Linked DNA regions of Homo sapiens: region 2 is linked to region 1. A link means that fine-mapping ties the variant in region 1 to the expression of a gene that starts in the linked region. Tissue or cell type: whole blood. Region 1 holds a variant in brackets; the other region holds the start of a gene. All regions are shown on one strand. Distances are between the middles of the regions.

Region 1 (2,747 bases):
CGTCTCAGCCCCCAGCCCCTGCTCACCTGCCCTCACCCAGAGTTCCTGGAGCATGGGCCCCTGTCTCAGCCCCCAGCCCCCAGCCCCTGCTCACCTGCCGTCACCCAGAGCTCCTGGAGCTCCTGTCATCTGGTGCCTCCCAGCCCCCAGCCCCTGCCCTCCAAGCAGTGACCGATCCATGAACACTGGACTCCCTGTGTGAGGGCGGGAGGGCCTGGCCAGCCAGGCAGGGTCCTGGAGGAACCGCCTGCTGGGTGTCCAGCTGGTGCAGCTGATGCTCCCCCCCACAGGACCTGACCACGCCTGCCGGAGCCTCCTCTCCCTCTCGGCAGCCCACAGCGGACACTGCTGTTTTCCTACCACACCTGCCGGCCCGGGGCCCATCAGCTGTCCCTGAATGAATGCGTGGATGAACGAATGAATGAACAGATAGCCACGGACATGCGATTTCCAACTCAAAATCCTGCCGTTGTTCTGGACTCCCCAGCTGGGGGCGAGGCAGGCTCTGACTCCGAGGCCGAGGTACTCACGGTTGGTCTGAGAGCGTCTCAGGAGAAGCCTTGGCCACGTGGGTGATGGGCACGAGCCCGGCGCTGGGCTGGCCCGAAAGCCTGCGTGCGAAGATGTAGCCGCCCCCCTCTTCGAGGGCACAGAGCCTGTCCCCGCGGCGGACACTCAGCTCCCCGCCACACCGCGCCGTGAAGTCATAGAGCGCAAGGAAGAGCTGAGGGAAGGGGCTGCAAGGCTCGGCGGGGAGCGTGGGCACTGGGTCAGTGTTGGGGTCCAGGGACCCGGGGGTGCCATGGTCCGGCTCGCCGCCCGCCGGCCAGATCTTGTCCCAGAAGAAGGACAGGAAGGCCAGCCGCCTCCTGAGGAACGGCTCCATCCCCCGGGGTCACCACGCTGGGCCCGAGGGCCATGGGAGCCCGCGAGCCCGGAAGAGGAACTGGCAGGGCCGGTGGGACCCGGTGTCCAGCGCTCCCTGCCCTGGCCGTGGGGTGACAGGGGACCCCGGCCCTGCGGTCACTCAGAGGTCCCCTGGATCCAGGAGGCACACGGTTCCCACCGGCGTCCGGGCTGGCGTTGGGGCTGGGTGGGGCGCAGGGCGGACCCCCTGCCTCAGGCACACCGACAGCACCTCCTGTCCTCGACCTCCTTGGCGTCTGGAGTGCACCGTCCCCTCCCCAACCCGACGGCAGAGGGCAGCTTGGGCTGGGGCGGGGGC[G/A]GGCTCCAGGAGGGGCCCGAGGAGGGCGGGGTGGGCAGGGCCAGCCTCTCTCCCGCCCTCTGCAAGGCCCAGGCAGGCGGAATGGCTCTGCCCAGTCAGGCCTGGCCCATGCCCAAGGGCACCACAGTCCAACAGCCGCCCGTGCCCACGGAGAAGTGGGGGTTCCACGGAGAAGCGCTGCTGTTCAGCACCTGCAGTGGTTGCCAAGCCTGAGCTGCACTCAGGTGAAAAATTGCCTGCTTATTTAAGTGTTGGCCAGATATTTTAACATCATTAACCCTGCACCAGGTGCCGAGCCTCCGGCCTCTGCAGTAAATTCTGAGGACAGGCGAGTGAGGGGGCTCTCAGCACCCCGGCTTTCATGCAGTAAAACGAGATGCTGATTGCAGGGAGCTCGGCCGCAGGCCAGGCACCCAGATGCCCCATGCTGCCCGATGACCGGCTTCTGAGTCAGTCAATGCCCAGGCCATACCCAAAGGCCACTGCGGGGAAGTGGAGGCTGCGGACGCCTGGCCCCAGTTCAGGGGGATGAGCACACGGAGAAGGGGCGGCGGGTGAGTCCCTGGCTGGGGACCTCCCACCCTCTCCCTGGACAGCGCCAAGCCCCCGCATGCTGAAGCAAACTCTGCCCGCTCAGGTAGGTCCCCAGATCGGGGCAGGACTGGGGGAGCAAATCCCAGCAAAACCCAGCAGCACGGTACAGGGTCCTGAGGCAGGAGGATGGGGTGGTGGCCATCTGCAGTCTCTCTCTCCTCCCACATCCCCTCCGGGTCCTGAGTGGGGTGGGGTGGGGGCCATCTGCAGTCTCTCACTCCTCCCACCTCCCCTCTGGGTCCTGAGGCACGGGGGTGGGGTGAGGCCATCTGCAGTCTCTCACTCCTCCTGCCGGCCTCCCCCAGCAGCCCCTTCCGCACCTGGGTGGCCTTCAGGGAGCCTCACGCCCCTTTCCCACATCTCACACGCATCCATGCCCCCACTTCATGCGTGTGGCTGAATGCATCCCTCCAATAGGCGTGACCAGTGTCCAGCCAATGACAAGCCCCTCGCACCTGCCTGCCCTGGAGTCACAGATGGGCTTCTCAGAAACCTCACGTCTGGGGACTGGTGTGTGCATTGTGGGGTGGCAGTGACACCCGTGGCCTGGCTCTCAGGGCACCCCAGCAGCCAAGCTGTGTCCGGGCTGATAGCCTGGAGCCAGCAGGGGCCCTGGGAGACTGGACATCGCCAGGCTCAGGGCAGGCTCTGCACCAGAGAGGTGCCCTGCTGGGGGTGGTGGGGGGTGTTGAGAAATGTGGAGAATTGTAAATACTACATTGGGGGTGGCCTTCGAGGGGCCCCAGCGCCTTCTCCTCCCGCGCTTCCCCCCGCCGCCCTCTCCTCCCGCCCCCGCCGCCCTCTCCTCCCCCCACCCGCTGCCCGTCTCCTCCCGCCCCCGACGCCGTCTCCTCCCCACAACCCACCCCCGCCGTCTCCTCCCCTCCACTCCCCCCGCCGCCGTCTCCTCCCCACACCCACCGCCGTC
Region 2 (2,747 bases), 49 kb before region 1:
CTGGAGGAGGTCACCTGAGCCCCATGCCCTGGGGCTGGGAGATGCCAAGCCTGGCCACCACGGGAGTTGGGGGTTCCTTCTCAGGGGGCCAAGACCATAGCCTGGGGAGCTCACCTCAGCCGCCTCCTTCTCGAACTTCTCAATGGTCCTTTTGTCAATACCTCCGCATTTGTAGATGAGGTGGCCCGTGGTGGTGGACTTTCCGGAGTCCACGTGGCCGATGACCACGATGTTGATGTGGGTCTTCTCCTTGCCCATTTTGCTGGGAGTGTGAGGGGCTGGCGGGACCCGGGGTGCTCTGGCTCAGGGCGAGGGGGGCTGCAGTGATTCTGTGGGGCCAGTGGTGGTGGGGAGACCGGTGATGGGGAGCCCCAGGGGGAGACACCAGCAGAGACTGTCCTGGCACAGGCTGGACAGGCATCCCTGCCCACAAACCAAGCCCCCATGTTTGGTGGGGAGGGAAGGGCCCCCACCCACAGCTGGGCCTGGCCAGGGCAAGCAGAGGCTGTGCACTGCCCCCACCCCACACTTGAGCCCAAACAGCCCCATCTGCTGTAAATAACTGGGCGTTGGAGCCCGCGGGCTGCTCCTTGGGAAGGGGTTAGCCACCATTTGGAGAGACCACGCAGCGCCAGGCTGGGTACGTCCGTGACCAGCAGAGCCGGGTGATGAGTCACCTGCCCAGCGCTCCAGGGCCCTGTCCTGCACGCGCACTCCCCTCCCCGGCGGCAGGGCCAGGGACACGGCGCCCCACCCCCACCCGCTGCCACCGGGGAGAGATGGCCACTGCTCCCCACTCCCCTCCTCAGGCAGGGACGGCGCCATCTTCCCCTCATCCCTGCCCGGCAGGCTGGGCCAGAGCCCCGACGGAGATGCGCTGCCCAGATTAGGAACCCAGAATAGCTCTAGGCACCCCCCTCCCGGACTCTCACAGGGACAGACAGCGGCCGGGAGGTGGGGGTCCCTGTTCCAGCCTGAGGAAGGAGGACCCGGCCCTGCCGAGCCCAGCAAGTGCCAGGTGGAGATGCCCTCGGCCCCGTGGGGGTATAGGGGGCACCCTCCCTCCCCCCCTCCCTGTGACTCAGGACCCTGGGTCACAGCCCTGTCCCATCACAGAGGTCAGTGGAGAAACCCACGCTGCTCCTCGCGGACAGGTGGCTGGGGGAGGGAAAGAGGACAGAAGCCACCCTGGGGTGGGAACACGGGTGGGGGTGGGGAGGCCAGGGCCCCCAGATCTCACCACCTCCCTCAGCGTCCTCTGGCCCAGCGCCCCGAAGCCCGACCCCCATCAGCCCCCGGCCCGCAGGGTCCCCGCGGCCCCAAGGTCACGGCTACGGGGCGATCGCCGCCCAGGACCCGGCCCCGCCGCCCCGCGCCGCCCCCCACCCCGGGCCCAGCCCGGCCGACGCGGGGACCCCCGGAAGCCGGACTCCGGGCGCGCGCGGGGGCGGGTGCGGGGCCCGGCCACCCTCTGCCCCCCAGGACCGGCCCCGGGGGTCCCTCTTCGGAAGACGGGGGCGGGGGCGGAGGCCCGGGGGCCGAGCGTCCTTACCCGGAGCCGAGGTCTCAGCCAGAGGGACTGGCGGCGCCGGCGCCGGCGGTTTTATCTCCGGGAGGGGGTCCACCTATTGACGGTGGCGGCGCAGTGCACCGCGCCCTGCAGCACGCCAATGCGGAACCGCGCGGGAGGGGGCGGGGCGCGGACGCGCGCGGGCGGGCGCCACGGGGACGCGAGGCGATGCGGGAGGCGCGGGCTGCAAAGACGGACGCGGGAGGCGGGGGAGAAACGCGCCGCGGGCGGGGGCGGGGCGGGGGGCAGGGCAGGGAGGCGGCGGGAGGGAGGGACCGGGACGGAGACGGCGCGGGGAGAGCGCGGCGGGCCCGGGAGACGGGGCGAGAGCCGGCTCAGGGCAGGAACACGCTTGAGCCGCGAAAAGCGGTCCCCGGGGACAGGGCAGACGCCGAGGACCGGAGCCGGCAGGCGGGGGAGGGGAGCAGGTGGGCTGCAGCCTGGGAGACGAGCCTGGGTCTACCGGCCCCTCCCCGGCCCTGCTCATGGGGGACGCCCCAGAACCAACGAAGCCCGGCTCTGAGGGGCTCTCCCTAATGAGGCCCGGGGGTGCAGGCCTCAGGGTGGAAATCTGCTGGTTTCCAGTCCCTGTCCTCACGTGCCTGCCCTCCTGGGCGCACCATGACAGGCCCCGAGGATCCAGCGCAGAACCACCCTCCCCCTGAGAGGCTGGTCTCCCACGGTGCAGGGAACGCCGGAAGCCCGCTCCCAGACCCACTGACATCTTCCAGGGACCCTCCCCTCCGGGTGCGCCGACCTCCGGCTGCTGCTGGGAAACAGCGCCAGCCAAGGGCGAGTCAGATCCAGACAGACCCAGGCCCCCCCGCCCAGCGCCCCACCCCGCTGCACCTCAGCGCCTTGTAGCTGATGCTCATATGGGGTCAGGATGCCAAGCCAAAGACCGGGCCACGCTCTGTAGGAAGTGGGGAGTCCCTGAGGTCCTGGCACACGCGGGTAATGACCAACGTGGGTTGTGAGGAAGGGGATGTGGCAGCCATGTGTTGTGTGAAGACCAAGGTTAGGGGCTTTCTCCAGACCCCAAGATCCTGTCGTCTCACCCAGGTATTCAGGTCTTCCCTCCCACGCTGCCCCCCCACCCCCACGCACTCGGATCTTCCTGCCAGCGGGGTCTCGGGAGGTGTGTGCTGAGTGGGGGCAGAGCCCTGGCACCTGTCCT

What was found. PIP is the estimated chance that this variant, and not a neighbour inherited with it, causes the effect.
Region 2: it holds the start of EEF1A2, and the variant in region 1 is fine-mapped to the expression of EEF1A2 in whole blood (TOPMed, PIP above 0.99).

The regions. Positions count from the first base shown.
Region 1 is chr20:63,546,578-63,549,324 of GRCh38, forward strand. It overlaps SRMS (src-related kinase lacking C-terminal regulatory tyrosine and N-terminal myristylation sites), which reads right to left and starts at 1,172. Exons shown (of 8, transcript NM_080823.4): 1 at 531-1,172. The coding sequence starts at 886. RefSeq lists an enhancer at 245-886. The variant G/A (reference allele first, on the strand shown) is at 1,226.
Region 2 is chr20:63,497,506-63,500,252 of GRCh38, forward strand. EEF1A2 (eukaryotic translation elongation factor 1 alpha 2) reads right to left here and starts at 1,578. Exons shown (of 8, transcript NM_001958.5): 1 at 1,553-1,578; 2 at 115-329. The coding sequence starts at 258. It overlaps LOC124904955 (a long non-coding RNA gene), which reads left to right and starts at 777. Exons shown (of 2, transcript XR_007067719.1): 1 at 777-1,118. RefSeq lists enhancers at 587-1,382, 1,643-2,212.